Homo sapiens: one gene and its partners. The protein of the gene in region 2 interacts with the protein of the main gene of each other region in a pairwise test. Each region holds a gene or a part of one and is shown on either strand. Other genes may lie near its edges. The genes, in order: RRBP1, PCNT, MYT1L, EIF4G3, PNISR, CEP85L and NIPBL.

Region 1 (4,563 bases), on a different chromosome or scaffold from region 2:
CCCTGGACCAATTTCTACAGTAATATACACTAAACAGATAAAGGTAAACCAGTGCTTCATATGATCACATATATATCTATGTAATCCAGTGTTTATGTTAATGCTCTATAATGCTTTACCAAATGACTAGGGTGGCGCAGGGGAAGGAGAAGGCAGAAGAGGAAAGAATGCAACTGCTCCTTAAAAACACCTTCCTACCATCATTCACTCAACAAGCACAGATACCCGAGTCAGGCTGCACAAAAGCATCAGGTGAGGCAAGAACATCGAACAGGCTGACAGAACGCAGCCAGACAGTTAAGAAAGACTTGCCAACACGCAGAACTCTTCTACACTGTGTGGTGGACAGAATTATTGCTCCTAATTCCTCACCTCTCCTTGTGCTCCCATATGTTTAAGACATGCCAAGACACGGACCTGTTGCTCACTCCTCACCTCTCCTTTCTCACATCACCTTGCAGTCCCTTCTCCCTGGACACAGTGGACTCCCTGCCCCTTGACTCAGGCTCAGACACATCACTTGATCTGGTCAATGAAATGCTGACTTGAAATGCCCTTTTGTGCCTCTGTTGTAACTATGAAGGGCCTCTGCCCTGGAGGGCGCCAGAAGGACCACACATGGAACTGACCTGAGCTCAACCTGTAGCAAAGAGTCACCAACCCAGTTAAAACCAGATTGAGGCAGAGCCACCAACCGAGAAAGCTCACATCTGCCAACCTCCAGAAGCATGAGCAACAATAAATGACTGCTGTTGAAGGCCACTGAATTTTTTTTTGAATGTTTGTTACGCAGCCTTATTATGACAATAGCTGACTGATACAGGTGGCACTCCCCGAGAGAATCCATAAGTCATTTAAAGACAGCCTTTCCTTCTAAGTTCATAAAGAAATCAGTTACTTACCAGGCTCACCTTTTTTCTTTGAACCAGACTTCTTCTTGGCAGGAGCCTCTTGCTTTGGTGCCTCTGGGCTCTGGGCCACATCTGTATTTCTGCCCTGGACAGAAGCTGACTCTGTCTTTTTACCCTGATTGGCAGCTGCGTCTGCCTTTTTGCCTTGGTTGGGGGACCCTTCTGCCTTTTTGCCTTCACTGGGGGACCCTTCTGCTTTTTTCCCCTGGTTTGTAATACCCTCTACCTTTGTGCCCTGATTAGCAACCGAATCTGCCTTTTTGCCCTGGATGGGAGCTCCCTCTCCTTTTTTGCCTTGGTTGGGACTCCTTTCTGCCTTTTTGCCCTGAGCCCCTTCTGTCTTTTTACCCTGATTCTGGGCTCCCTCTCCTTTTTGGCCCTGGTTCTGGGCTCCCTCGGCCTTTTTGCCCTGGTTCTGAGCCCCCTCGGCCTTCTTGCCCTGGTTCTGGGCCCCCTCAGCCTTCTTGCCCTGGTTCTGGGCCCCTTCTACTTTTTTGCCCTGGTTCTGAGCACCCTCGGCCTTCTTGCCCTGGTTCTGGGCCCCCTCGGCCTTCTTGCCCTGGTTCTGGGCCCCCTCGGCCTTCTTGCCCTGGTTCTGGGCCCCCTCGGCCTTCTTGCCCTGGTTCTGGGCCCCCTCGGCCTTTTTGCCCTGATTCTGGGCCCCCTCGGCCTTTTTGCCCTGGTTCTGGGCACCCTCAGCCTTCTTGCCCTGGTTCTGGGCCCCTTCTACTTTTTTGCCCTGGTTCTGAGCCCCCTCGGCCTTTTTGCCCTGGTTCTGAGCCCCCTCAGCCTTCTTGCCCTGATTCTGGGCCCCCTCGGCCTTCTTGCCCTGATTCTGGGCCCCCTCGGCCTTCTTGCCCTGATTCTGGGCCCCCTCGGCCTTCTTGCCCTGATTCTGGGCCCCCTCGGCCTTCTTGCCCTGGTTCTGGGCCCCCTCTCCCTTTTTGCCCTGATTCTGGGCCCCCTCTGCCTTTTTGCCCTGGTTCTGGGCCCCTTCTACCTTTTTGGCCTGGTTCTGAGCCCCCTCGGCCTTTCTGCCCTGGGTTGGGGCCCCCTCCACCTTTTTCCCCTGGTTTGGGGTTGTATCTACCTTTTTACCCTGGTTCTGGGCCCCCTCCGCCTTTTTGCCTTGGTTTGGGGTTCCTTCTGCCTTTTTGCCTTGGTTTGGGGTTCCCTCTGCCTTTTTCCCTTGGTTTGGGGTTCCCTCTGTCTTTTTGCCCTGGTTTGGGGTTCCCTCTGCCTTTCTGCCCTGGTTTGGGGCTCCTTCAGCCTTTTTGCTTTGATTCTGAGTCCCCTCCGCCTTTTTGCCCTGAGTAGTGCCAGTGGCTGGTGTGTTGCCCTTGGCACCCACTGGGGGCACCACCACCATCGGCACCTCCTTGGGAGCAGTTTCCAAGATGGCAGCCTTCGAAGTGAGAACCTGGATGGAATTCACTACAGAGCTGACAGCTGGTTCCACTTTTGCCACTTTTTTCTCCTTCTTCTTTTTGTCCTTGGGGGAGGAGGCCAGCTTCTCCTGGGGCATGGCTGGAACTGTGGCGACAGGAGCAACGATAATGGGGGGCTGCACTGGGGTTGGAGCCACAGCCACAGCAGGAGCCCGCACTGGTTCTCGAAGGAGGACAGTCACATTGGGGGCTGGATCATGATCAGGTATCTTCCCATTAGGTTTCTCTTCCTTTTTCTTGGTCTTTCCTTTCTTCTCCACTGTTTTCTCCTTCTTTTTCTTCTCGACTTTCTGGTGGTGAGTTTTCGCCATCTCCTTGCGCTGGTTGGCTAGGGCTTCTTCATATGACGTTTCCTTCATGGAGAAAGTCGACACCAGGAAGATGCCAATGGCAGAAACAACCATGAATCCTCCAAAGACCACAACCCCCAAGGTTTGAGTGTCGTAAATATCCATCCTGGCTTGCTTTCCTTTCACCTGTCAAACATACATGGAGGTTACTATTTATAGAAATCAAGGCCTTCAACAGTTTCTATCCCCACCCTACCACCAAACTTCAGGTTTCACTAATTCTTTCTTCAGGCTAATAAATTCAGAGAAGAAACAAACCCAGGCACTCTCTGATGTCCCACATTCTCACCTGCTCCTCTTTAGGAGTGAGCGATTCGTACCCAAGGCATGAGCAGTCCCCATACAAAGCAACAGCAGAGTCAGAGCAGAGTGGAGGCCTATCTCTGGAGCACACACGCCCAGGAGCCTCAGCAGCCATGACCCTGATGCAAGATATTCCCCACCCAAGGTCAAAGATGCACAGGAGCACAAACACAGGCCAGGTGTGAGACCATGGGGAGTGGTGGAGACTGTAGTAAAAACACCCGCCCCCACCTAAAATTAGACAGTGACACTCTGTCATGGCCGATTGCCCTAGAAATGTGATTGCTGAGTTGGAAGATGTTTTGATTTTTCATGTTAGGCCAGACACTTTTAAAAAATTTTTCTCTCAACGTGAAATTGACTGATTTAAAAAATATGTGAACCGAACCAAACCAAACACATCTGCAGGCTTTCAGCCACAAGCATTTTAGCCAGCAGGCCCACAGTGTGCCATCTCCACTCTGTTGTTTCCCTCTTCCCCAGTGCCAATAAATGCTGCTACCCAGGATCAGAGATAAAAACTTCTGCATTACAATCCTGAAACGTGTTCAAAAATTCAGTGAGGGAAAATAGCCTTTTGCCAGCAATAGCTCCTGAGGAGTTATGGAGCCTGCAATTTGCATGTTGGGAAACAGGAAGAATCAGTCTTGGGAGGCCCAGAAGATGCCAGGTTTGGAATTTCACATCCAGAAGCTGCACAGAGGGTGAGGAGACAGTGTCAGCAGGCCCCTCTGTCAGACAACACTCCCCAAACCATAAGAATGAACAACACCATTCTCACTGCCTATGGACCAAAGTCCAATGGGTCAGAGGCATCCAGGTTCATACACCTTCCTGCCACAGCCCGGGCTAAGTTCGACTTCACTGAGGAACTCCAGGAGGTGTATTTATTTGGATACATTCAAGCCAGTCCCGAGTCTCTCTAAAGAAGATCGATGGAATGAGCAAAGAGAACACAAGGGTAAGAAGGGGTGGTTAAGGGGAGGTAAAAGGAGGTGGAAGAGGAGAGGAGGGGAAGTGGACAGGCCTCCCCCAGCATTGCCCTGCAAAACCTCTAGATGCTGTGGGAGACTGGGTCCAGGCTGCTTAGTGGCTCAGATACTGAGATTCTTCTCCTAAGACATTGAGATCCCCACTCCTCTTGAGTGGTTATAGAGGAAGGAAACAGAGTAGGAATCAAATCCAAATTTTGACATGAGGGCATTTTAAAGAAGGGACTGAGAAGGGAGACTGTTTTCAATGTCTTGGCATTGTGTTCTAAGAAAAATCACTCTCGGCCGGGCGCGGTGGCTCACGCCTGTAATCCCAGCACTTTGGGAGGCCAAGGCAGGCAGATCACGAGGTCAGGAGATCGAGACCATCCTGGCTAACACGGTGAAACCCTGACTCTACTAAAAATACAAAAAACTTAGCCAGGCGTGGCGGCGGGTGCCTGTAGTCCAGGCTACTCGGGAGGCTGAGGCAGGAGAATGGGATGAACCTGGGAGGTGGAGCTTGCAGTGAGCCAAGATCGCGCCACTGCACTCTAGCCTGGGCGACAGAGCGAGACTC
Region 2 (4,563 bases):
TTTCTATTTTTTGTCATTACCAGGAATGTTATCTTAAGAGAATAGAGTTTGGAGCTATATTGACATACATCTCAATCCTAATTTTCCACTTACTGTTTTTATGGGTTTAGAAAGATGTTTAATATCTCAGTTTCAATTTTCCTGTCTTTAAAGTGGAAACAATCGTATTTCCTTACATGGCTGAGGATTATGTTTCATGGCACAAGTAAACTCACTTCGATGCCTGGTGTCACCGAGTGGCAGTGGCAGAGACGCCTCATCACCAGCGTCACCACGAGCAGTGTTGGGATGGAAGGGGAGCGTGCCCGGCTCACCGCTTTGTTGGTGCAGATTCTCTGCCTAGGTTTCTTACTTTCCTCCTGGAGTCAGAATGACACCTAAAATCTAATGCACCTTCAGGAAAATCAAACAAATCAAAGTTGTTTAAATATTAACAAAATAACATTTAAAGGGTGGTGAAAGCATCATTCTGTAGATGTCCTTGCATGGAAAATGACTGCATTAGAGCTTCGTCCCACGATCAGACGTGGAGCACAAGGTGTGCACCAGGGCCCAGTGGCAGCCAAGGTGGGTGTGGAGTGCATCCGGCACCAGCAGTTTGCTTCTATGGCTGCTTTGTTTTTCACGCTATGGAGTCTTCACTCCAAGAATGCATTCAGGATGTAACGTGCCCTGAAGTAGGGACATTCGGAAGTGGATACATTTAATTTGCCTCTGAAATGTCCTCTCTCTTCAGGTCATATATACCAGAAGTTCTGAGATTGAAGAGCTGAAAGCCACTATTGAAAATCTGCAAGAGAATCAGAAACGATTACAAAAGGAGAAAGCAGAGGAAATTGAACAACTCCATGAAGTCATTGAGAAGCTGCAGCACGAGCTGTCCCTCATGGGGCCTGTGGTGCACGAAGTCAGCGACAGTCAGGCTGGCAGTCTGCAGAGCGAGCTGCTCTGCTCCCAGGCCGGGGGCCCTCGTGGGCAGGCCCTACAGGGCGAGCTCGAGGCTGCGCTGGAAGCCAAGGAGGCCCTGAGCCGGCTGCTGGCTGACCAGGAGCGCAGGCACAGCCAGGCCCTGGAGGCCCTGCAGCAGCGCCTCCAGGGCGCAGAGGAGGCTGCGGAGCTACAGCTGGCTGAGCTGGAGCGCAATGTAGCCCTCAGGGAGGCTGAGGTCGAAGACATGGCCTCCCGGATCCAGGAGTTCGAAGCGGCCCTGAAAGCAAAGGAAGCGACGATTGCCGAGAGAAATTTAGAAATCGACGCTCTGAACCAGCGGAAGGCGGCCCACTCTGCCGAGCTGGAGGCCGTCCTGTTGGCCTTGGCCCGCATCCGCCGCGCCCTGGAGCAGCAGCCCCTGGCAGCCGGGGCGGCGCCTCCCGAGCTGCAGTGGCTCCGAGCGCAGTGTGCCCGCCTCAGCCGCCAGCTGCAGGTGCTGCACCAGCGGTTCCTGAGGTGCCAGGTGGAGCTGGACAGGCGGCAGGCCCGCAGAGCCACAGCTCACACACGGGTGCCCGGGGCCCACCCACAGCCTCGCATGGATGGTGGCGCCAAGGCCCAGGTCACCGGCGACGTGGAGGCCTCCCATGATGCTGCTTTGGAGCCGGTTGTCCCTGACCCACAGGTGGGCTCCCCCCGCGGGCCATGGCAGGGTATTTTTTTTTACTCTCCTTTTCTCCTTTGATGTCAATGACTTCTCTCTGCGCTGGGCACTGGGGGCTGCAGTTGTCATGGTGGCTCATGACACAGCGGAGAAAGGGGGCCTGAAGCTCGGGCCAGCCTGGGCCTGTTCCGTGTCAGTACGCAGTGAAGCTGGGCTGAGGATTTCACTGTTTTGTACCATTTTAAGCTTATCGTTTTAAGCTTTTAAAAACAATTCTTTCTTTCACATAATAGGGACTGTCCAGTGAAACGGAGCTCACTATGTGAGGAGGGTCCGCTTAAGCTGCTTCTCTGGTTTCTAACCAAATGGTTTGTCTGTCGATGAGCAGTGCCTGTGTGAGATGTGGCGAGCGAGCTCTTCTTTTGGAGCTGGAGGCCCTGTAGGGAGTCGTCTTTTAAGGCTTCCACTTGTATTTGAGCAGAACCTTGGGAACTTGGTGCCTACCACCCCCACACCAGCTGGGTCTTTGTAGAGTGGCTCCCACTCTCAGATGCCCCAGTCCACCTTGCTCTGTGGGGTCGTCCTGGGTCGGGGCAGCTTTCTGCTGGGTCCTCAGCCCCGTTCCCATGTGGCCTGCTGTGGACCAAGGTGCTCGGCTGTGGATGTCACTGCCACCTCCCTCTGGCATCCCTGCTGGCTGCCGTACTGGTTCCCAGCTCCAGGCCACCTGAGGGGCAGCCCCAGCAACAGCCTCCTGCATGCTCAGCTTTCCTCTGTCTCCTCTGTCAAGGGTGATCTGCAGCCTGTCCTGGTGACGTTGAAGGATGCACCTCTCTGCAAGCAAGAAGGCGTGATGTCAGTGCTCACCGTCTGCCAGAGGCAGCTGCAGTCGGAGCTGCTCTTGGTGAAAAATGAAATGCGCCTGAGTCTGGAGGACGGCGGCAAGGTGTGGGGAGGGGGGAAGGCGCGAGGTCCCCCCGGGAGAGGCTGGACACGCGGCAGCAAGGTGTGGGGAGCGGGGAAGGCACGAGGCCCACCCGGGAGAGGCTGGACACGCGGCAGCAAGGTGTGGGGAGCGGGGAAGGCACGAGGCCCACCCGGGAGAGGCTGGACACGCGGCAGCAAGGTGTGGGGAGCGGGGAAGGCACGAGGCCCACCCGGGAGAGGCTGGACACGCAGCAGCAAGGTGTGGGGAGGGGGAAGGCGTGAGGCCCCCCTGGGAGAGGCTGGACACGCGGCAGCAAGGTGTGGGGAACGGGGAAGGCACGAGGCCCACCCGGGAGAGGCTGGACACGCGGCAGCAAGGTGTGGGGAGGGGGGAAGGCGTGAGGCCCCCCTGGGAGAGGCTGGGTGCAGAACATGTGGGTCTTGCCCTGGGCAGAGGCGGGTATTCTGCTGAGGTGAGGAGCACAGTCCGTGCCTGCAGTGACATGTTCTCTGAATCCTTTCTGTTCTGTAACGAGCTGTCCATAACTGTTGTGAAATTTCGTACGTGCTTCATTTAAGCCACTCTGTAGAAACAATCAGTTGGGTTTTTTTCTTGTAATTGATCCAAATGGATTTAACTGTGCTCGAGGGTTAGTCCTGGTTTGTCTTTTCATGGGAGGACCACATCGCCCCCGTGGGCCTCACCTCAGCTCAGGACTTTGATGGCCAGCGTCTGTTTTACTTTGAAAGGCCTCAGATTTATTCTTGTAATCTGTTCACCTCACTCCATATTGTCACTTGAAAAAAAGCTGGCACTTCTTTTCCCCGGGGAAGGAGGTTGCACCTTGACCATCTCAAATTGTAGCAGGGTGGAGATTTAGCGAGAAAAGCGGGTGCTGGTGCTTCTCCCACCCAGTGCACCAGGGGCAGGTCCCCAGTGCCCCTAGGAAACACCTGCGCAGGAGCTGCCCTCTCCTCAGGCCGCATCAGGTGCAGATGGCACCTTTATTTTTTTTCTCTCTTTTTTTTTTTTTTTGAGACAGAGTCTTGCTCTGTCGCCCAGGCTGGAGTGCAGTGGCACGATCTCAGCTCACTGCAACCTCTGCCTCCCGAGTTCAAGTGATTCTGCAGCCTCAGCCTCCCGAGTAGCTGGGACTGCAGGCATGCGCCACCACACCCAGCTGATTTTTGTATTTTTAGTAGAGACGGGGTTTCACCATGTTGGCCAGGCTGGTCTTGAACTCTTGACCTTAGGTGATCCACCCTCCTCAGCCTCCCGAAGTGCTGGGATTACAGGCGTGAGCCACCACGCCCAGCCTTAGATGGCACCTTTTGATGCACTGTCTGCACCTCGCCTCCTCCAGTCCAAGGCCCAGCGCAGCCTCCCTGGACACACAGCCACCCACCCTTCTCCTCCTTCTCCTCTGGGACACACATCTGTCCACCCTCCTCCTCCTCCTCCTCCTGGACACAGTCGCCCACCCTCCTCCTCCTGGACACACAGCCGCCCACTCTCCTCTTCCTCCTCCTTCTCGACACACAACCACCCACCCTGCTCCTCCTCCTCCTCCTCCTGGACATGCAGCCGCCCACCCTCCTCCTCCTGGACACGCAGCCGCCCACCCTGCTCCTCCTCCTCCTCCTGGACACACAGCCGCCCACTCTCCTCCTCCTGGACATGCAGCCACCCACCCTGCTCCTCCTCCTCCTCCTGGACACACAGCTGCCCACACTCCTCCTCCTGGACACACAGCTGCCCACCCTCCTCCTCCTGGACACGCAGCCGCCCACCCTCCTCCTGGACACACAGCCGCCCACTCTCCTCCTCCTGGACATGCAGCCGCCCACCCTGCTCCTCCTCCTCCTGGACACACAGACACCTACCCTCCTCCTGCTGGACACACAGCCACCCACCCTGCTCTTCCTCCTCCCCCTCCTCCCTGCTGTTTGCTAAATGTGCCCCAACTACTCCTCCAGGCTCTGAAACCCAGAGGCTCTAACACCAGAAGTGCTGGGCAGGTGTTTTATGGTCTCTAGGGTGG
Region 3 (4,563 bases), on a different chromosome or scaffold from region 2:
AGCAATGCCATCTAAAATACTGTAGGTTCAGCTTACTTCTGTGAGGTTTCTTTGGCCACAGCATGAATTTACCATAACATCAATGATACGAGAGATATTTTTAGATATATTGCCTAGCTGGTAGCTGCTAACAGCCTGACTCCGGTATTTACAGTTCTCATCTATTACATTAAATACAGCACTGCTCATGATACACATTCTGCTCTAGAGATTTAGGGGCCTGTGGGTACAAGGCAAGCAGCATACTGCACACATCTCCACTCGTGTCTGACTGTGTTGCAAGCTTGATACACAGGAAGGTTAGAAATTACTGGTTTAATCCACAGCTGTAGCTTGAAAAATATCTAGATCAGCAGTGAAGTTCCCTCCCACCTTAGGATTTGGGGAAGTGGATATGTTTTGTGTTGCTTCAAGGAGGCAGCCTGAGACAGGGTAAGTCAGCAGGATGCTTCCGAGGCTCTTCTGCTGCAGCGATGTGGTCTCTAAGGGAGCGTGAGCCTGATGCACGCAGCACAGGCGGGACTCGCAGCCCGGCGCTGTCTGTCTGCTGCCTTTTGATGGAGGCTGCACTTCACCCGCCCGGCAGAGCGCTGTACGCATGCCCGTCTTCCCTGTCGTTTAGTGGTGTCAACTTATTAATTTCCATCTTCGACTTCAGGCCTGTTAGTTTCCTGTCTGAAAGCATTATTACTTTTGTCCATGTGGCAAAATAATTAGCATACAGATGAGAAGTGGCCCCTTGCCTGGGCGCCGGTAGAGAGAGAAGATGTGCAGTGGAAAGTTGATTGGATGAATGGAGAACAAATGGTGGGCGTTCAAAAGCATTAGAAGAGTTTTGTAGTCGTGGAGCAGGTTGGAGAATTTTCTGGGTGAGTCCCTAAGATGGAAGGCAGGGGTGGCTGCCGTGGGAACAACTGCTTGTCAGACGCTGGCTTAGCCGAAGGTGCCAAGTGCGGCTGTAGGCACAGATAATTCATTGGGACGACTTTGTTTTGCAAGTCTTGAGGCTGCTCTTTGATATCCCCTCCAGGTAAATATGTCCTGTGCTCCCTGTCTTCACCAGAGCATTTGTTCCACTTCCCAAAGTGGAGCAAAGTTGAACTCCTGATGGTCAGTAACAAAAGAATAGTCATTTGCTGCCGGTTTGGGGTAGCGGCTTGATCCGTCTTCGTGTGCATGTGCCTGAAGTGGAAATTAACTGTTTAGAGATGACTGTTTTTAGAAACTTACAGCAGCCATTATTCAATGTGTTTAATTAATATTTTCTGAAACCGTGCATCGAGACCAGCAAAATTAGCAAATGTTGTTTCAATTAAAGCCCAGACATAATTAGTTTTGACTAGTATGTATTTTTCCTAGCTGGAAGATGATTTTAGCTAATTTAACCAGCAACTTACTGGAGATTGTGAAAATTGAACTGAAGTTTCTATTGATCTGTAGAATCTACAACTAGGAAATGTGGAAATTAGCACACAGTGATACTCTGAGTTCTTTTCAGAAAAATGGAGATCATTTTTGCAAATCAGTCTTCTGAGTTGAGAAGTAAGAATAAAGAGCCTGCTGGAATCCTAATTTTCTATTGTCATCAGTGACACATTTCTTATATAATTCTGTGACTGTACTACTGCAATATGGGTGTTTTAATATTTAGTTAATTATACTTCCATGGTAGGAATTCACTGATAAATAGTTCTATCCTGTTTTAATAATTCCTATTCTCCCGAAAAGGCAAGGTTTTTCATTTTAACTGACCTAATTATTTCACCTGCTTTTTAGGTAGAACTCAAGTAGAAATTGTTATTCTTTAACTGTCTTTTTATAGATTCCTGAATATTTTAGATCACTTGATTTTATTTTGCTTTCATTTTAAGCTTTTTTTCTAAAGAGTTGCTTTACTTTAGCTGTTTGCTTTAAACAATAACAGTGAATATTTGACAGAAAATACAACTTTTGGGGGGAGGGGAAAATTTTCTGTTTAAAAAAATATATCTTTTCAAAAAAGAAAGAAACCACCTTTAATGAATCTAAACCTCAAACACAAGATATTTAAAAACATATTAACCCTTCATGTGAAGCTGCTGAAACTTGCTTTTGATCATTTTCCCTCTCATTCTGCAAGTTTCTTAGTACTCACATTGAGCTTTTTCTGCATAATAGGTAAATTATCTATTGTTTTTTCAATGTGTGTGTGTTTATACACACAGACACATTTCTTTTTCTATTTCATTTTTAAATTTGCTGGTAAACTAGAATGAAGAAAAAAATTGAGTTTTTAAAAATTTAACTCAAGCAGTTTTAAATATCAGATTGTTTTCAAGCAGATTCATGAAATCTTACCTAGAGAAAAGTCATAAAGTCATAGTTCCATTATTTTCTCATTGCTACATTTCATTTTAGAGTTGAACCAAGCTTTATATGATTAATATAGCTGCTTTTAGCTTTATGATGGTGGTTTATAACTTTCTTGGGGCAAAATATCAGCATTTACTTTTTAACCTCACCTTGTGCATTTCTATGCAGAGATCCCTGAAAGCCCCTTCTCCACGATGCTCTTTGTGCCTGGCTGCCTTCAAAGGTGGAGCCCAGCTATTTTGTTTTTTTTTTTTTAGGGTCAAAATTGTGTCATATTAGTCTCCACTTCACGGAGCCCCGCGTGCCACTCTCCGTCACATTTGTTCTCAGGCTGTGGAGCAGGCTCACGGGCAAAGACAATGAAAGGTCCCAGGACTGGAAACAGGGTGATGTGCACCTGTCTGAAAAGGTGATTTCTAAGGGAATTTTTCCCTGTCTAGTTGCACTTTAAGGTTGAGTGTCAACTTTGGAAAGAAAAGCAGCCTTTCATGGCAAAATTTTTAATCAATTGTTGTGATTCCAAGATATTAGTCCAAAGATGAAGTGCTCTTTGACTTAAGTACCCTGTGTAGGCAACATTGGACAGTGTGGGGCGTCTGCTGTCTCAGTGGGCCTGCTCTGCTCACCGAAGCCATAGAGGGCATTGCTTTGGTGGGGTTTCCACTGATTGTGAAAGAAAAAAAAAAAACAGGTAAATATTTTTTATTCAAAAGGTTATTTGACTCTATTCCTTTTAAAATTCAGTACTGTCATGTATTTTCACACTCTTAGGAGTACTATAATTCCCCTCTTCCATGATTTTGTGAGTGCGTGTATATGTGTATTTTTTAAATGCCAGTGTGAAAATGTGTGTAAGCTGACAATATTTGAGCCATAGGGTTAGTATGTGTGCCATGTAAACCTGCTTTAGATGTGTTTGTGCACTCATTAATATAGTTGAAAGAACTTTAGGACTCAATATTACATACTGACTGCTTTTTACTGAAGTCTGACTGTTTACATAGAACACTCCAATTTCTTTAAAGAAAATTACCTCAAGGATATCGGGCACTTGCTTGAGAAATTTTCAAGTGTGGAATGTCAGGTTTAGGACTCTAAATCAAACAACTCATGAATTAATAATTTATGGGGGTCTTTTTTTTTAGTACATTGACAAAGATTTTCATTATAGGATTTCTAGCTCAAACACTGTTCTGAGTGGTGCCTTCATGCCGTTATCTCAACCTAAATGCATAGTGTGTTTTAATGGCCCTCAACAGAATGGTTTTTCAAAAGTCGGCATCACCTCTTGACTCCAGGGGCTACCACACCACTGAACCCTAAAAGCAATAAACCATTCTTAAGGGCTTACTTTAAATTCGGCCCAACCTCCCCTCCCTGGTGCACGAATTCCACCAGCCTGTGCCATCTGAACAGAAGCTGAAAGCACAGAGCATTGTCGCCATGAAACAATGCTAGCCAGACTGGTTGTAGAAATAAGCGAGTCTGCAGGGCACCCCATAGAGAGCCATCAAACCGAGTCTGCTCTGGAGCTGCCTGGTAGATTGTGAACATTCGGAAATCAGTGCCGCATCTGCCGGTGGACCCTGTGCTTCTCTGAAACTCCCACCTGCCCTAATGCATCTGGGCAAGAGCTTTTCAGAATCCAGTTTCCTCCAGGATAAATTTAATATGTCTTGAGGGCCAGGCACAGGCAAATTGATTCTATCTCTGCACCAGAAGAACTCATCAACATCTGTAAGAACACAGATTTTCAACAACCCCAGGATTAGGGGATGCTATTTTGTAAAATATATTCCAAGCCTACTCCCTTCATACCTCATGCCAGCATGGCATTTTTTAATTAGGAAGTTGATTAAAAAGGGCATGGTAGACCACGGATGTATGGTCTCCTGGCATCCATCCAGCTGTTTGTTGTCTGGGTCGTGGAAAGCGTTGCTCATCACCAGTTGCAGGAGCGAGGGGGAAATGATTATAAGGGATGGCAAGAATGAAACTGTTCTGCTGTATGTGCTAATGGCAGCTGATTGTGGCTTCCTGTGAACCAGCCTTTCCTACAGATAGACTTGCTGACTTCCTTCATGAGACAGAGACCACTTGTACTTGGAAATAACTTGGAAATGTAGAAACTAGGTGTATTATTCAGTGGTTCTGATTTTTCAGTGATCAACAGGATAAGTCATAATGACTTGTATTTTCTGTATTCAAACC
Region 4 (3,500 bases), on a different chromosome or scaffold from region 2:
TCACAATACTAATATTGAGAGCATCTGCATTTCAAACAAATGTACCATGGTATGAACATTATTTAAACCAAAATTCTGTTTGCCCATCCATCCCTGGGCACTGTCTTGCAATATCAGGTCATCTAAGTGGCAAACTGATGTTTAAAAAAAGAATATATGTCAGAAATGAGTGAAGTATGATTTTGATGCATGGTCTTTTCACTTTACACTTATTTCAATTCTGAGGTATGGTTTGTATCTTCAACTTATATTTCCTATGATTGTTTTGTTTTTCTTTGCTTTTACATTTTAAAAACATTTTTGTTCATTAGTTTCTCTCATTTTTGTAACTATCGTATCACTACAAATGAAAATGAACATTGAAGTGTCAAACAAATTACTGTTCTCCAACAAACACGTGTTTCTTCGGAGGGCATTTACCTACAGCCACACCAACACCAAGTTGTTTAGTTTTTTTTTTTTTTTTTTTTTTTTTGAGATGGAGTCTCGATCTGTTGCCCAGGCTGGAGTGTGGCGGCACGATCTTGGCTCACTGCAACCTCTGCCTCCCAGGTTCAAGCAATTCTCCTGCCTCAGCCTCCCGAGTAGCTGGGACTACAGGCCCACACTGCCATGCCTGGCTATTTTTTTTGTATGTCAGTGGAGATGGGGTTTCACTGTGTTGCCAAGGCTGGTCTCGAACTCCTGAGCTCAGGCAATCCACCTACCTCGGCCTCCCAAAGTGCAGGGATTACAGGCATGAGCCACTGCACCCGGCCCCAAGGCTGTTTTTCTAAAGGGTAACTGACAAAACAAGGTCTAAGGTCATCTCTCCACCAAGGAACAAGTTTCCTAAAACAGTGATGGCACTATGAATACTGATGTCAATGGAAGCCAGATAGTTGAGGAAACAGGTAATTTACAAAGATTTATGAAAAATTTCTCACTGTTCCAATTGCCTTGCATTGTTTTCTTTCCTGTGCTGGCTCATGGTGTTCTACAAGATGTTCTGCAGTTCCAAAAGGCCAGACACCTCTTACAGACACTGATGAGGAAATTGTCTCAAGAACTGAGCTGGGTAGAAAAGCCACATCTCAAAAGTAGGGATCAGCTTTTGGGTTTGTCAAATTTCCTTATTATACACCTCAAAATAGACAAAAATACTGAGGATGATGGTGACCAAAACCTATTCACTGCATGTCAAGGATCAACTGCTGGAGGAGCACTCATTTATCAAAAAGCCCAATTTACATACGCATTACTTAATCTGACAGGCACAGAGAAAGGAAATTATATAGCATAGGGCAATGTTGCAGAAGATAGGCTGTGCTGAATTGTTCAAAGCCAAAACTTCAATATTCCTATGGGCTAACTTATCCTAGAATAGCTGATAAGCCTCAGATAACTTTTGATTAAACTTACAATAACCCAATGGTTAGTTCCTAAGGTCCCAGGTGATGCTACATTAAAAAGAAATAATTTGAACTGGGAAGAATATAATACTCCAAGGATATTAATGACCATGTAAAAATGTACACAAAAAATAAAACTGTTTCAAAAGGCAAAGTGAGAGAACGTTAAGCTTACCTGCAAGTGAATCAACAACAGCATTATATTTTCAAAAATAGTTATAAACCTTTGATGTTCTGATTGCTATCTTCCTACATCCAAGATTTAAAAACTGGTCATGCATAGAAGAGTTCCTTTAGGATTGACTGGGTTTTAAAATTCTAGGAAGACAGAATTAGGGACTATAGACCATCCTGGTTTTTTGTTTTCTAGCCCCAAAGCAGCAAAATTAAGCATTGAGAAACCAATTCATATGAATGAGGCAATAGCAACAACAACAACAACAAAACCCAACATGTTTCGTGACATATACCTTGGAGGCATTTTGTATATTTGGAAATTCTCATTTGCATTTTTAGACAATGGAGTAACTCTTTTGCAGGTTGTACTAAAACACAAACACACCACTGAAGAAACCAGACTAGGAATTTCAGCATTCATTCGATGTTTCTGGAAGTCAAGGAAAGTAGCCAATTAAAAAATAACTCAAACACTGCCTCTTCTTCATGTTCAGCAAGCACGAGATTAATGGCAGAATGGCTTACCTGGGACAGGGCTCCTTCTTGAATTTAAGTTTTGAGAATCCAAAATCTCTTCTGTTTGCCCATCTGCTTCTACCTCTATTTTGTTCTGAATCTCTTTTGCATCTTCACTAAGGCAAGTTCTTATGCTCTCGTCCTCCTCTAGGACTCTCTGGACTGTGATGGCAGCACTCGGAGAACTAACAGTAGTGGCAGCAGCAGGAACAATGACTGGAGTGTGAGGAGGAGAAGCTGGAGGAGTTGGAGGAGTTGGAGGAAAGGAAGGAACTGTGGAAGGGGTGATGGGAGCTGGGATACACTCCAGTTTCATTTCTTCTGGGGGATTTTCGAGAATCTCCAATTCAAGAGTCAATGGCAATACTTCCTGTTTTACTATTTCCACAATGCTCTCCGTGGCTGATAATTTTTCGCTAACTCCATTTATTTCATTAATTAGGTTAGTACTAGAAACCAGTGGAATATCATTAGGTGCTACACTACAGGGTTTCTTGCATATATCATCATCATTTTCATTTGTTGGTAAAGGGTCTGATGTTTCTGTGCAAGATGTGAGGCTGGGTATAGGAATTGTGTCTTCTCTTGGGGATGAGAGTTCACATCTGTCATCTATAGCAGTGGTGAATATTGGTTGGCTACTAAGAGCAGAAGAGGTGGGGGCTGCAATTGTACTTCGAGCAACAGAAGAAACAGTGGTAGGTGATGGAGGCAGAGGAAGCTCTGCTATGGATACTATTGCAGTAGTTTCAGATGTCTGGCCTTCTTGTTCTTTCTTCTCTCCACTGAGGACTAGCCTAAGGACTGGGGAAGGAGACTTTAACACTGGATCTGGTTTTGGCTTCTCCTCTGGGGAAAAAAAAATAAGTTTTAAGAATAATTCTTGGATCAGAGACTACATATTGCCTTGGGCCAATTCTTTCAATGTCTTACCCTAAATTACAGGTAACAGAACAGAGACCAATATATTAGACTTATTCTGGTATGCCAAAAACATTGTCTCTTTTCTTTTTTTACTTAAACCTACTATTTACTTGGTATCCAATACATAAAGTCTGTTTTGGAGTAAGAGAAGGAATCTATTCACCAAAAAATTATATATCAAGAATACAACTGAAAAGCTCACCAAAACTGAGGCTAAACCATTCTTGGTTTAAGAGTGAGGCTTTTCTTTAAGGTAGGAAAACCTTCATTTCTACCACTTCTCGTTCCCTAAAAAACTTTTTTTCCAAGGATATATTACAGTGGCAAAACAGTACAAGGGCAAACAATTAAAAATTAAATTATTATAAAGGGACTGATGTTATTTTTTATTCTATATATTTTTGTATTTGGGGAGATAATTTTTATTTTAAAAAGTATTACTTGTATAAAAACTCAAGATAAAGCATCACATTTTATTTAATGAAATTTACT
Region 5 (4,563 bases), on a different chromosome or scaffold from region 2:
CAGCCTCCTGAGTAGCTGGGATTACAGCTGCTCGCCACCAAGCCTGGCTAATTTTTGTATTTCAGTAGAGACGGGGTTTCACTATGCAGGTCAAGCTGGTCTCGAATTTCTGACCCAAATGATCTACCCACCTCAGCCTCCCAAAGTGCTGGGATTATAGGTGTGAACCACCGCACCCAGCTGAAGCTTTTATTAAAAAAAAAAAAAAAAGTTTTCCTATGAACAGAGGTTTTAATTTGCATATTTTCAAGGGTTTGATTTGTATCACCTATGATCATTTTTCTGTATGTTTAGAACAGCCACTTCTACTTTTGCTATATTTTTAGAAGCTTTTCTTCCCCAAAGTTTTGATGGAAGCTACTATTCAAGTAATATAATGTTTGGGACACTTAGGCTGAGAAAAATAGAAAAAAGATGTGAAATTGGGAAAAACAGAGCAGAATAAAAATACAGTAAAGAAGGTGATGGTAAGTTAAGGAAGTTAGAGGCTATTTATTAAAGCGCTTTAATTAAGTCTGGAGTTGAGAAACTTGATTTAGTTACAGAGGATGACTACTGGATGAGGGCACAGGTGGAACACCAAATGGTTAGTCTTTTTAAAAGACAATTTACTGGCTGGGCACGGTGGCTCACGCCTGTAATCCTAGCACTTTGGGAGGCTGAGGCAGGTGGATTACCTGAGGTCAGGAGTTCAGGACCAGCCTGGCTAACACGGTGAAACCCGTCTCTATTAAAAATACAAAAAAATTAGCCGGACATGGTGGCACTGGCCTGTAGTCCCAGCTACTCCGGAGGCTGAGGCAGGAGAACTGCTTGAACCCGGGAGGTGGAAGTCGCAGTGAGCTGAGATAGCACCACTGCCCTCCACCAGCCTGGGTGCCAGAGCGAGACTCCGTCTCAAAAAAAAAAAAAAAAAAAAAAAAAAAAAAAAAAAAAAGGGCAATTTACCATTATGGCATCTTAACAAAACGTACATGCACATCCCTCTGACCCAGCAATTCCACCGCAGGGTCCTAAACCATGAATGTGAATATTCATACCATAATTCAAAAATTGGCAGCATATTTTGTAACAGTAAACATCTGGTTTCAGTGACATTAAATTAAAGGCAAGTTAAATAAGTTAGAGTGAACCATACAGTTGATTCCTATTCAGCCATTAAAATGAATAAGGTAGACTGCTACATACTGGCATGTATTACCGTACAAACTGCATTAAGCGAAAAAAAGGGACTACAATCTGTCCCTTTTCTACAAAATTTTAATATAAGTCCAAATTTCATTTTCATGACCAGAGTTACCTGTTTTGGATAAGATTATCAAAATTTACTCTAAATCCTATAAGAAAATGAGATAGAGGACATTTGCCCAATGTCTCACAGTTGAAGAAGTTTGTGTAATTTGTACTGCCTGTACTAGTCATTATGGACTGTGTTCATTAGCTTCATTTGATTCTTTGTATCTTTAAAAATCTGTATTTTTTCTAAAAATACACATTGACAGAATAAAATAATTAAAAGAATACAGAAAAATATAAAATAAAGATTAAAAATACCTGATTCCTATTTCCAATTCCTAGAGCTTGGCAGTTTTGAGAAGATTTTGTAATTTAGTAATTTTCTATACATAACTGCATTCTTTTTTTTTTTTGAGATGGAGTCTCGCTTTGTTGCCCAGGCTGGAGTGCAGTGGTGCGATGTTGGCTCACTGCAAGCTCTGCCTCCCAGGCTCACACCATTCTCCTGCCTCAGCCTCCCGAGTAGCTGGGACTACAGGCGCCTGCTACCACGCCCGGCTAATTTTTTGTAGTTTAGTGGAGACAGGGTTTCACCCTGTTAGCCAGGATGGTCTCAATCTCCTGACCTCGTGATCCTCCCGCCTCAGTCCCCAAAGTGCTGGGATTACAGACGTGAGCTATCGCTCCCGGCCCATAACTGCATTCTTAAAAAGAAAAGGCCTCAAGTGGCATCATTTTTCATGCATTGGGCAAATGTTCTCTGTCTCATTTTCTTATATGATTTAGAGTAAATTTTGATAATCTTATCCAAAACAGGTAACTCTGGTCATGAAAACAAAATTTGCACTTACATTAAAATTTTGTAGAAAAGAGACAGATTGTAGTAAAGACTTGTTTTAAAACTAGGAAATACTTAAACTTTTATATATGTTTCAGCACATAGCACAATGCTTGATAAGGAGTTTCATTAACTATTGTTTAATTAAACAGTAAGATTACTAGTGATTTTATGGCAAGGATTTAGGAACACTACTCTTTCTTCCTTCATCTTCACCATAGTATCTTCACTACTAACAAATCCAACAAATGCAAAATCTAGAAAACAGAAGGAATACACAGGCACAACACACAGTAATCAATGGATACATATTTTAAATTTCACTATGGTTTAACAAAATAACATAACGTTGTACCATTAAAAATGACATTTACAAGTTGGTTTAAAAATGATTTGGAAAATGTTGATAATTTAAGGATGGGCATTTGCTACCCTCTTCTTTACCACTGTTTGAAAGCTTTCATTTAATAAGTTAAAGATGACATACAATAATACTTTTTATAGAGGGTCTGCATTAAATTTTCATGTTTTTGTCTTGGCTCAAACAAAAATCTTCTTTAGGGGAGAGAAAACATTTTATAATAATTTAAATTCTCCATAATGTTTTGTCCATGTTAAGTGGTTAAATATTTATAATTCACTGAAATGTTAGCAAGTAAATACATTAATGTTCAACCATGAAAATGACATTCCAATATTGCTACTGTGATTTTATAATATCAAAAATTGATTCCAATTTATTCACTCTTCCTTTAGACTTAATTTTAAAGCTTGTTAGGCTTGGGTTTTCAAGTTTGGAGAAATTTGATTAATGACGGGCAAGGCTGCAAGACTTTCCTAACAGTATTTCCCTTCATGTGGTAAAGTGAACTGCTATTTCCTTGGAAAACAAATGGGGTCTGGGAAGAACAGAAAGATGAATAACCAAGGTTTGTATCAGATCATCAAAGCCACCACACACTGCCGCAAAAAAATCAAGTGATAGCTATCACCAGTGTTATGGAATGAATTGTGTCCCCATCCAACAGATACACTGAAGTCCTAACTCCTGATACTTGTGAGTATCAAGTGATACTTGTGAGTATGTCCTTATTTGTAAATAGGGTCTTTGCAGATGTATTCAAATTACAGTGAGTTCATATTTGATTAGGAGGGACCTTATTAAAAAGGAGACATAAGACACTTACAGGGAGAATGTAACATGACCACAGTGGTACAGATTGGGAGTAGATGGCTCTATAAGCCAAGGAACATCAAGGATTGACAAGAACTACCAAAAGCTAGGAAGAGACAAGAATCCCCTACAAAGCCATTAGAGAGCATGCCCTACCAAAACCTCAATTTTACACTGTTAGCCTTCAGAACTGTGGAAGAATAAATTTCTGTTGTTTGAAATCAGCCAGTTTGTGGTAATTTGCTACAATATCCCTAGAAAACTAATACAACCAGAAATGGCCATCATCTATTTTATCCTTTTCTTAAATGTATCTATATTAGAACTTCATCGCTTTGAGGTCCTAAAACAACTTGTTTAAATGACAATCATTTATTTATTATTGAGAAATTCTCACTCTGTCGCCCAGGCTGGAATGCAGCAGTGTGATCTCGGCTTACGGCAACCTCCACCTCCCAGGTTCAAGCAATTCTCATGCCTCAGCCTCCCGAGTAGCTGGGACTACAGGTGCATGCCACCGCGCGAGGATAATGTTTGTATTTTTTAGTAGGGATGGAGTTTCACCATGTTGCCCAGGCTATCCTCAAACTTCTGGCCTCAATGATCCATCCTCCTCAGCCTCCCAAAGTGCTGGGACTACAGGCATGAGCCACCCCGTGTGGCCAAAATGACAATCATTAATATTTACAAAAGTCACTCAGAGACTGTGACAGAGATGGATGAGAATTAAAATGTGGTATTTTAAAGTCCTTGAGCATCAACTACAAAATCAAAGAGCTACAGAAACACATCTATCATTTGATGCATAGGATGAAATATTTCTCAAATCAACCACAAAGCTGAGAAGCCAGAAAATACAACAATCCTCTTCACCCCTGACATTTCAGTCTTACATGAGTTGACTGACCTCAAAGTCAAAAAAGAATTTATTTGTTTAATTCAGATTAGGTGGAAATGGCACTGGTAAAAATTAATCTTGTAATCATTCGAAATACGGAAAACAGAAATTTTGCTACTTTATGTGACATGCATTTTAGTATATACTGAAATACTTGCAGCTTGTAGCTCAAAAGACTATTTTAAAAGTGGAGGACAAGCATGGCGGCTCATGCCTGTAAACCCAGCACTTTGGCAGGCCAAGGTGGGTTCATCACTTGAGGCCAGGAATTCGAGACCAGCCTGGCCAACATGGCGAAACCTCCACTCTACTGAAAATACAGAAATTAGCTGGGCATGGTGGCATATACCTGTAGTCCCAGCTACTTAGCAGGCTGAGGCAGGAGAATCACTTGAACCCGGGAGGCAGGGGTTGCAA
Region 6 (4,563 bases), on a different chromosome or scaffold from region 2:
TCCTCCCACCTCAGCCTCCTGAATATCTGGGACCACAGGTAAACACCATGATGCCTGGCTAATTTTTGCATTTTTTGTAGAGAGAGGGTTTTGTCACATTGCCTAAGCTGGTCTCAAACTCCTGGGGTGAAGTGATCTGCCCACCTCAGGTTCCCAAAACAAAGTATTAGGATTACAGGTGTGAGCCACCATACCCAGCCTGTATTTTTCTATAATGAGATTTATTCCAAGGATAAAAAGAACTAAAAAGTAACTTTGAACCTCACTCTGTGGTTTTTATTGTTAGTAGCAATAGTGGTTTAATTACTTTGAAACTACTTTTTGCATATTGGTGGGGGGAAGCATCTATGTTAATGTTGATAGGAACCACAAACTTCGGTGCGAGAGACAAAGAAATAACAAGTATAAAATCAAAGAAGAAGAAAAAAAGAAAAAACCAACAACTCTGAATTGCTGATCCCCAAAACTGCTACCTTCTTATCTTGAAAACTGCTAATTAAAGGTAACTTTAATTAGCTTTCCAATTGGAACTGTATTTCAGAATAACTCAATAGCCTGGGGTGATTGGAAAAAAACTTTTTTATAGATGAATGCCAGCTAATAAATATAATAAATATATACTGTACTATAATTATGTGAAACTGTATTCTAAAACACAAAATAAATAAAGGTTTGTCTTTTTATAATAATTTTGGTAAGAAACAATGGAATTAATTAACAGGCATATCAAAATCATGTCTTTAATCTGAAAATGCTCTATTAATATCTATAAAATAAGCATTTTATAGTGAATCATCCTTTCAAAGCAAAATTGAATTTCTTCTACTCACTTCAAGCAATGCTTTTGTTAATCTCTGTACATTTCTTTCTTTCTTTTCCAGCTCTTCCATCATCTTTTGAGTGGTCAGTTTCTCTTTAGAAAGCTTTCCTTGCATAGACTAGAATTTTTAAAAAAATTGGAAAGCAAAACAGGTTAACATGTAAAGAAAAATCTCAAACAGAAAGAAGTAGGAATGTTGGCTCTGAATACTTTAAATCTTCTTTCCTCCCCATCCCCTTGGAAGATGAAGCCTTCACTTTTAAACTAATCCCTATCAGTTAGAGAGTGGCTGAATCCAAATAAAAAAGAAAAAGAAATGCTGGTTTCCCAGAATACATTTGGATTTTTTTAAATTACAGTTTTTACCAAGGAAGTTTTTAATTTGTATAAAACATGTCAAATCTGAAGTTCCTACTTAATATGGTATTACAAACAGTTCTTATTTCATTAACTTTTTATATGTAGAGAGTGTATTAGCAACAAATCTATATTTTTGTTTTACATTTTGCTTACAGTTAATGAGATGCAAGATAATAAGATCATGATATCATCCCTATTTTCTATCATTTGAAACATAGCTCCCGTCTTTCATTGTATAGTAATCCAAGCAGTGAATATACTGTGAACTCTGGGTCAAAGGTCTATTATGGGAATTTGATAAGCTAATCTCCTTCTTACTCCTTATAAAATTGCAAATTACCTAGACATGACACTATTGTGAGTACGCCAAAGCAGCATAAAGGACATTTTGAGTCTTTGGTTAGTCTTTTCACCAATATATTAAAAGAAAAAATTGCCATACACCCTGTAGTTATTAGTGAATTCTAAGTGTTTCTATCAACTATTTTCCTTTTATTAGACCACAAAATCAATAAACATATGACCAGAAGAGAGGTTATCATTTTATTTCAGGTCTGTATTTAGTCTCAATTCTGACAATACTTCAGTTTGCTGACCACCTAAATAGCACACAATCTACTATAAAGATATTTTCCTCACATTATCTTTGGATGGAGTAAAAAAAGATAGCTATCACCATGGGTTGAAATAAGACTCCATAAATATAAAGCAGTTTTATCAGTAACAGATACTCAAACTTGTTGCTTTTAAATTTCATTTGTCTGCTAAACTCTGAAAAAAATATTACATTTAGTAACTCAGAAGTTGGACAGAAATGAATCAAACTCTATAACAAGTGTTTCTCCTTCTAGGGAAAAGTTGTTTTATATTCCACAAAAATGAAAAAAAAAAAAGCACCAAGTCAACAAGGGGCTCTCTGAATACGTGTATTATTGAAAACTGAAATTTCCTTTGTAACTTCATTAGATTGACTCAAATCTTATTTGATTAAATGAACATGGAGAGTTATTTACCTAGCTGAAGATCTATCCTTTCTGGCCTAACAAGATTATTTGGCTGGAATCCAGAATTCAACCTAAATTTTCTCAAGATTTGTGACGGTTTATTAGAATTACAGAAGAAGGGCATCATAGACACACTACTCAAACTCACATTCTAACAAAAAAAAAACTAAACTCGAGGGGTGTTTTCACAATATAATTATTATATATAACAGAATAATTATAATAATGATACATTGTAACAGAATACAGTCCTTTAAAAGATAAGAGTTTTATATTTTTACCAATTCAGAGTCATGTTGAATGTGACTAATAATTAGCTAATAAATCCAACTAATATGTCCCTATGTAAGACTGATTTTAATCAGTGCAGAAACAGGCAATCTTCTCCATCAGAAAAACTGAAAATGTCTGGCAGTATTGCCATTTATCACAAAAAGGAAAATCAGATTTCTCATATGTTGCTTGAGTTGAAGGGCAGTTATCAAGAAGCACTTTAATAGGTAAAAGACATTGCAGATAGGCTTATCCTGAAAGGACCAAGTGCTGTACAAATTGGTCTAGGATAATACTAGGTATGAGTGCTATAGTTGTCTGACAGTAACATTTCACCTAAAACATTAATTACTTCTCTATCCTAAATTGTATTAAGATATGTTTAAAAGATAACAAGAAAAATTCTATCAAGAATACTGTGCGTTATTTTATAAATACTTTTTGCAGAGCATTTTTTTGAAATCTCTTAAGCTCTTAAAATATACTTGCTCAAACTGGTAGTACTTTACAATGCATAAATGAAATATCTCATATTTTCTGAAACGAGTGTTTGGCCTTGTGAATTTTACAATAACTATTTATCATTCACTAGACATGTAGGGGATTAATAAAATTAAAAATTAATTTGCAAACACCTACAACAGCTCTCAAATTCTCAGTTTAATCATGACATTTAAAAATTCTGCCAAGGTACTAACCTACAAGGTCTTTATAATGATCATGTTTGAAGTTGAACAGTGGAAATAAGCACATTTGTTGTTTTAACGTAAGTATCCAGAAATGCCCCATTTACAAATAGCTTGAATGAGGGAAAACCAGGTGTGCCTTAGTCCAGATTCTATATAATCCCCAAACCCAATTTAAAAGGAACTATTTTGAAAGAAAATTTATGTTAACATTTTTACTGCATATATACACACATAAACATGCATACCATATAAGAAATTCACAGGGACATTCCTTCATGCAAAAATCATTGCCAAACACTGTTCTGTTCATTGAGTGATACATCAGTGAACAAACAGTCAAAACTCTTGGCCTTTGTGGAACTTTACTAGGAGAAAAAAGACCAAAAGAAATAAAATAAATATGCAAGTTACACAGTATCATGTATTAGAATTTGACTAGTGCTGTGGAGAACAGAGCACAGTAAGGGTCAGGAGACTGAAATCTCAGGTAAGCAAGGGCCTGAAGGAAGTGAGAGATTGTGTCCCAGAGATATCCAGAGTTCCTATCAGTACAAAGGTTCTGGGACAGATGGTGTCTTCTGTGTTTGAGAAAAAGCAAGAGAGCCAGGATGGCTGAGAATAGTAGGAGAAAGAGTCAGAGAAGGAAGACAGCATGCAGAACAGATTGTATAGGGCCTCAGAAATCAGTATAAGAACTTTGATTTTTATTCTGGAAAAAAAAAATGAGGATCCACTGAAGAGTTCTGAGCAGAGACATGATGTAATCTGATTTTTGTTCAAAAGGATCACTTAACCTAATGAGAGTATACTGTGCACAGGCAAGGGTAGAAGCATGAAGAAATAACCCAGATGAGAAAGGGAGACAGCTTGGAACAGGGTGGCAATGGAGGAGGCAAGGAGAAGAGGTCAGATTCTAGACATACTTTCAAGGTAGTAGAATTTGCTGTCAAATGTGAGGTAAGTGAGGAGTCAAGGATAAATCTAGGATACCTGGACTGAACAAATGGAAGGGCAGAGATGCCATTAATAGGAAATCTGAAATGTATAGCAGGGTGTTTATTTTGGTGGTGGGGAGATAAGAAATAAAAAAAAGAGCCTTTTTTAATGTTTCTAAGAATCTAAGACAATGTACAGCTCGAATTCCTTTCTTAAATTAGTTATCATCTTGTAACTTGATAAAACTTTAAAAACAATCTGCCTGGAGTTTTGCTTCTAGCATGACAGTGTGAGGAGCTCCACAGACCTACCACTCAATGAAATTGGTGAATATTATAATTAAAAATTTCTGGAAATGGTCCTAAGAGCATATAGCAAATGAAGAAACATTACTCAAGGAAATCTACTAAAACTCAGTAAGAAGAGTAAGAGACTGGTATTTGAAATAAAACTCTGCTTCACGAAAGGATTCTAGAGTAGA
Region 7 (4,563 bases), on a different chromosome or scaffold from region 2:
TATAAGTTCTATTCATTTTATATTCTTACACTTATTTATATCCTTAAAGAGTATGCAGTTAAATTCTTTTTACTATATTTATTGAGATCTCTCAAGCATATTTCTTCAAACCTTACCTTTCAAAGTATTGTGTCATTCATGCTTACTATTTTATGTGTACATATTTGCATTTGCATTTTACTCCATTTTAAAAACATAACCTTAAAAAGATAAACAACGTCCATAGGGTTTTTAATAAGATAAGAATACATGTCTATTACTGATATTGATATTTATCTTTAAATTTCAGATAAGCCTTTGAAAAAAAGAAAACAAGATTCTTACCCACAGGAGGCTGGGGGTGCTACAGGAGGTAATAGACCAGCTTCTCAGGAGACGGGTTCTACGGGAAATGGGTCAAGGCCAGCATTAATGGTTAGCATTGATCTTCATCAGGCAGGAAGAGTGGACTCTCAGGCTTCTATAACTCAGGATTCAGACTCCATAAAAAAGCCTGAAGAAATCAAACAATGTAATGATGCACCTGTTTCTGTTCTTCAGGAAGATATTGTTGGAAGTCTTAAATCTACACCAGAAAACCATCCTGAGACACCTAAAAAAAAGTCTGATCCTGAGCTTTCAAAGAGTGAAATGAAACAAAGTGAAAGTAGATTAGCAGAATCTAAACCAAATGAAAACCGATTGGTGGAGACAAAATCAAGTGAAAATAAGTTAGAAACTAAAGTTGAGACCCAAACAGAAGAACTTAAACAGAATGAGAGCAGAACAACTGAATGCAAACAAAACGAGAGCACCATAGTTGAGCCTAAACAAAATGAAAATAGACTGTCTGACACAAAACCAAATGACAACAAACAAAATAATGGCAGATCAGAAACAACAAAATCAAGGCCTGAAACCCCAAAGCAAAAGGGTGAAAGCCGGCCTGAGACTCCAAAACAAAAGAGTGATGGGCATCCTGAAACCCCAAAACAGAAGGGTGATGGAAGGCCTGAAACTCCAAAGCAAAAAGGTGAGAGCCGCCCTGAAACTCCAAAGCAAAAAAATGAAGGGCGACCTGAAACACCAAAACACAGGCATGACAATAGGAGGGATTCTGGAAAGCCATCTACAGAGAAAAAACCTGAAGTGTCTAAACATAAACAAGATACTAAATCTGACTCACCTCGGTTAAAATCAGAACGAGCTGAAGCCTTAAAGCAGAGACCTGATGGGCGATCTGTTTCTGAGTCACTAAGACGTGACCATGATAATAAACAAAAATCAGATGACAGGGGTGAATCAGAGCGACATCGAGGGGATCAGTCTAGGGTTCGAAGACCAGAAACATTGAGATCCTCTAGTAGAAATGAACATGGCATTAAATCTGATAGTTCAAAAACTGATAAACTAGAACGAAAACACAGGCATGAATCAGGGGACTCAAGGGAAAGACCATCTTCTGGGGAACAAAAATCAAGACCTGACAGTCCTCGTGTTAAACAAGGAGATTCTAATAAATCAAGATCTGATAAACTTGGTTTTAAATCACCAACTAGTAAAGATGACAAAAGGACAGAGGGTAACAAGAGTAAAGTAGACACTAATAAAGCACACCCTGACAATAAGGCAGAATTTCCAAGTTATTTGTTGGGGGGCAGGTCTGGTGCGTTGAAAAATTTTGTCATTCCGAAAATCAAGAGGGATAAAGATGGCAATGTTACTCAGGAGACAAAGAAAATGGAAATGAAAGGAGAGCCGAAAGACAAAGTAGAAAAAATAGGATTAGTTGAAGATCTAAATAAAGGAGCTAAGCCTGTAGTTGTGCTACAAAAACTGTCTTTGGATGATGTTCAGAAACTTATTAAAGATAGAGAGGACAAATCAAGAAGTTCCCTTAAACCTATCAAGAATAAACCATCAAAGTCAAATAAAGGTAAGAATACTTCTACTGATGTCATTTATAATATAATCGATTTTAAGTGTTAAGATTACTAAGTTTTAAAAAGGAAATTTACAAAAATTAGAAAGCTACTACATGAAAATATAACATTTATGTCAAACAACAGGAAATTTTTTTCAGGAGTATAGATAAAAAGTTTCCAGTGAATTTTTTTTTCCCCACAGTTTTTTTCTTCCCACCCACTACTCAAGGTAGTTATGAATGTTACTGCTATTTGGTTACACAGAGATAAGTTATTTTGCTGTTTAGTTATTTCTTATATTTCTGAAATATGCTTAAGTGAATGTTGTATTAAAATAGCTGTCTTTAAAAACTCTCTATTTAAAAATGTCTTACAATACTACATTCTTACAGACCTGTGTCTGAGCCAATTATTGATGAATAATTTGTATAGTTTAGAAAGTTATATAAAAGGTTATTTTTCATTTTGTTGGGGAGATGGTTAGTTAAATATGTTTTATATTTTTAAAACATATCTTTTTGTCCTTGTTTATGCAAAGGTAATAGGGAATGGTACTTACTTTTTAAATTTGGTTAAATTGTAAGTTTGTGGGAGGCGGGGGACTGGTGTTATTTTTGCATGGTTTCTGAATTCTCTGGTTACTTGAGTAAAATTATTTCCAAAGGGAGAAGAATGTCTTAAGTGCCAAAAGATAATGGCCATTTGTGCAGAAGATATACTTCTGTATCCCTTTGTACACAAGTATTTAAAATAACTTTTTTTATTTTTAAATAGAGATGGGGTCTTGCTTTGTTGACCAGGCTGGTTTCGAACTCCTGGCCTCAAGTGATCCTCTCCTCTCAGCCTCCCAAAGTGCTGGGATTACAGGCGTGAGCCACCGTGTCCATACAGTCTAAATATACTGAGGTGTAGTGAAGGCAATAGAACTGAGAGTTTATTTAAGTTTTCCTTCTGTGAAAGAGAATTATTAAGAATTTAGATTTATACTTATATATAACCAAGTATATGAAATCTGGAATTGCATTGGCCAAGAGGGTAACCATTGCCTTTTTTGGCTATTTAAATTTAAGTTAACTAAAATTGGAAGTTCATTTCATTAGTAGTCACATGTGGCTGTTGGCTACCATATTGGACAAAACAGAACATTTGCATCATCACAAAGTTGTATAGCACTGCAGTGTATTAGGAGATACAAAAAGTGTGTGGTTATTGTTTTTCATAACATGCTGTTGTAGCTTGTCTACCAAGAAAGCTCTTTGAAAACATATTATAAAGAACTCTTTATTCAAAGAATGACTTGTGGCTAATCTGTTGTTATTCTTGCTTGGTCTTCGTCAACATTCATTTTTTCACTGTTAATTTATTTCCTTTTGTCTTACAATAATGAAAAAAGATTGCCTTCTGAGTCGCTAATATTTGTGTTCTTTGAGTGAAGCTTTTAAATTTTAAATTATGGCAATTAGACTTACCAAAAGTCAGTTAAGACATCAGCCTTAATTAATAAGTAGGCTTTTTTATTTAACTTGAATGCATCTTTTCAGAGTTACTTGTTAATATAAAAGAGGTTGTAGAATGTGGGGGTTAACACCACAATTGTTTTCTTTTAGGTAAAAATTTTCTTTAAAATTTTTTAGTGAAAGTTTGGGAGTAGCTTATATTTATAAACTAAAGAGTATGGCTATACAATTTTAGAAGAGTCAGGTGAAAGATGGAAAGTGGTACCCTCTTGTTCCTTTGATCTGGACCATCTTTCTCTCCCTCCCCTCTCAGCTTACCCTAGCCTTGCTTTCTAAACTCTGTTCTAACAAAGAGTCTTTTAAAACTCCTTAAAGAACATCCAGAAGTGAATATAGCTTTTAGTTAGTAATTGGTATATTATTTCACCTGGGTTTTTCACATGCAATAATATTGCCTATGAATATGTTTTTAGCACCAAAATGCGTTTCTGATAGTATACTTTTAATGCAGATGTATATACCTGATATGGTCATGTTAGTATGTAAGTAAGCTATCTGGGTGTCTGCCTATTAGAGTGATGTGTGTGTATGTGTACATGTGCATGTTTGTGTATATATACACATATATTAATGTAACTGCAATTACAGTAACAGTCCTTTTCATCAAAAAATACTATGTCAGTGCTTAGATGCATTTCAGGATGCCGTGTAGCTATCTTTTGGATTAATTTATTTATGTCTTAGGATCCATATCTTTTTTTTTTAGTAATGATCCAATTTTGGTTTTGTTTTAGATTTTTGCTACTCAGTTTAAATAGCAGAGTTGGGTAATTGTGGATTTTTTAAAATTGCATGTATATGAAGCACAGTTGTAGATTACTGACCCTTTGTAGTATATACTGGGATTTTCTTTGGAGATTCACAGAAAATCACATTTTGATGTGTTGATGATTTTCTGAGTAAAGGAGTTAGTCTGAATACTGCTGGGATACTTGTATGGTTGGTTCCTAGGGCCAAAATTGAAGAGCCATAAATTTCCATCTTTTAAATATTTTACCTGATGTTCATATAGAAAATATTCATTCTTTAGGATATATTTTAAGCTGATAAATTTTGATTGTGTGATAGAGGTATAGATTTATTACTCCTAATTTAGATTACTTATTTTTGTCTTTTGTATGAGCATGATAAATGTAAAGTGG

Evidence for each region.
Region 1: the proteins of PCNT (region 2) and RRBP1 interact in a two-hybrid assay, tested with the Homo sapiens proteins (one large-scale study listed by BioGRID and IntAct).
Region 3: the proteins of PCNT (region 2) and MYT1L interact in a two-hybrid assay, tested with the Homo sapiens proteins (one large-scale study listed by BioGRID and IntAct).
Region 4: the proteins of PCNT (region 2) and EIF4G3 interact in a two-hybrid assay, tested with the Homo sapiens proteins (one large-scale study listed by BioGRID and IntAct).
Region 5: the proteins of PCNT (region 2) and PNISR interact in a two-hybrid assay, tested with the Homo sapiens proteins (one large-scale study listed by BioGRID and IntAct).
Region 6: the proteins of PCNT (region 2) and CEP85L interact in a two-hybrid assay, tested with the Homo sapiens proteins (one large-scale study listed by BioGRID and IntAct).
Region 7: the proteins of PCNT (region 2) and NIPBL interact in a two-hybrid assay, tested with the Homo sapiens proteins (one large-scale study listed by BioGRID and IntAct).

The regions. Positions count from the first base shown.
Region 1 is NC_000020.11:17,657,694-17,662,256, forward strand, and holds part of RRBP1 (ribosome-binding protein 1), read right to left. Parts: intron 2,836-4,563; 5' UTR 2,815-2,835; coding exon 903-2,814; intron 1-902. UniProt on the Homo sapiens protein: Acts as a ribosome receptor and mediates interaction between the ribosome and the endoplasmic reticulum membrane.
Region 2 is NC_000021.9:46,410,453-46,415,015, forward strand, and holds part of PCNT (pericentrin), read left to right. Parts: intron 1-736; coding exon 737-1,615; intron 1,616-2,384; coding exon 2,385-2,540; intron 2,541-4,563. UniProt on the Homo sapiens protein: Integral component of the filamentous matrix of the centrosome involved in the initial establishment of organized microtubule arrays in both mitosis and meiosis. Plays a role, together with DISC1, in the microtubule network formation.
Region 3 is NC_000002.12:2,320,638-2,325,200, reverse strand, and holds part of MYT1L (myelin transcription factor 1-like protein), read left to right. Parts: exon of another isoform or gene 1-1,182; intron 1,183-4,563. UniProt on the Homo sapiens protein: Transcription factor that plays a key role in neuronal differentiation by specifically repressing expression of non-neuronal genes during neuron differentiation.
Region 4 is NC_000001.11:20,939,398-20,942,897, forward strand, and holds part of EIF4G3 (eukaryotic translation initiation factor 4 gamma 3), read right to left. Parts: intron 2,934-3,500; coding exon 2,094-2,933; intron 1,999-2,093; coding exon of another isoform or gene 1,979-1,998; exon of another isoform or gene 1,847-1,978; intron 1-1,846. UniProt on the Homo sapiens protein: Component of the protein complex eIF4F, which is involved in the recognition of the mRNA cap, ATP-dependent unwinding of 5'-terminal secondary structure and recruitment of mRNA to the ribosome. Functional homolog of EIF4G1.
Region 5 is NC_000006.12:99,418,254-99,422,816, forward strand, and holds part of PNISR (arginine/serine-rich protein PNISR), read right to left. Parts: intron 1-4,563.
Region 6 is NC_000006.12:118,469,707-118,474,269, forward strand, and holds part of CEP85L (centrosomal protein of 85 kDa-like), read right to left. Parts: intron 939-4,563; coding exon 831-938; intron 1-830. UniProt on the Homo sapiens protein: Plays an essential role in neuronal cell migration.
Region 7 is NC_000005.10:36,984,387-36,988,949, forward strand, and holds part of NIPBL (nipped-B-like protein), read left to right. Parts: intron 1-289; coding exon 290-1,915; intron 1,916-4,563. UniProt on the Homo sapiens protein: Plays an important role in the loading of the cohesin complex on to DNA. Forms a heterodimeric complex (also known as cohesin loading complex) with MAU2/SCC4 which mediates the loading of the cohesin complex onto chromatin.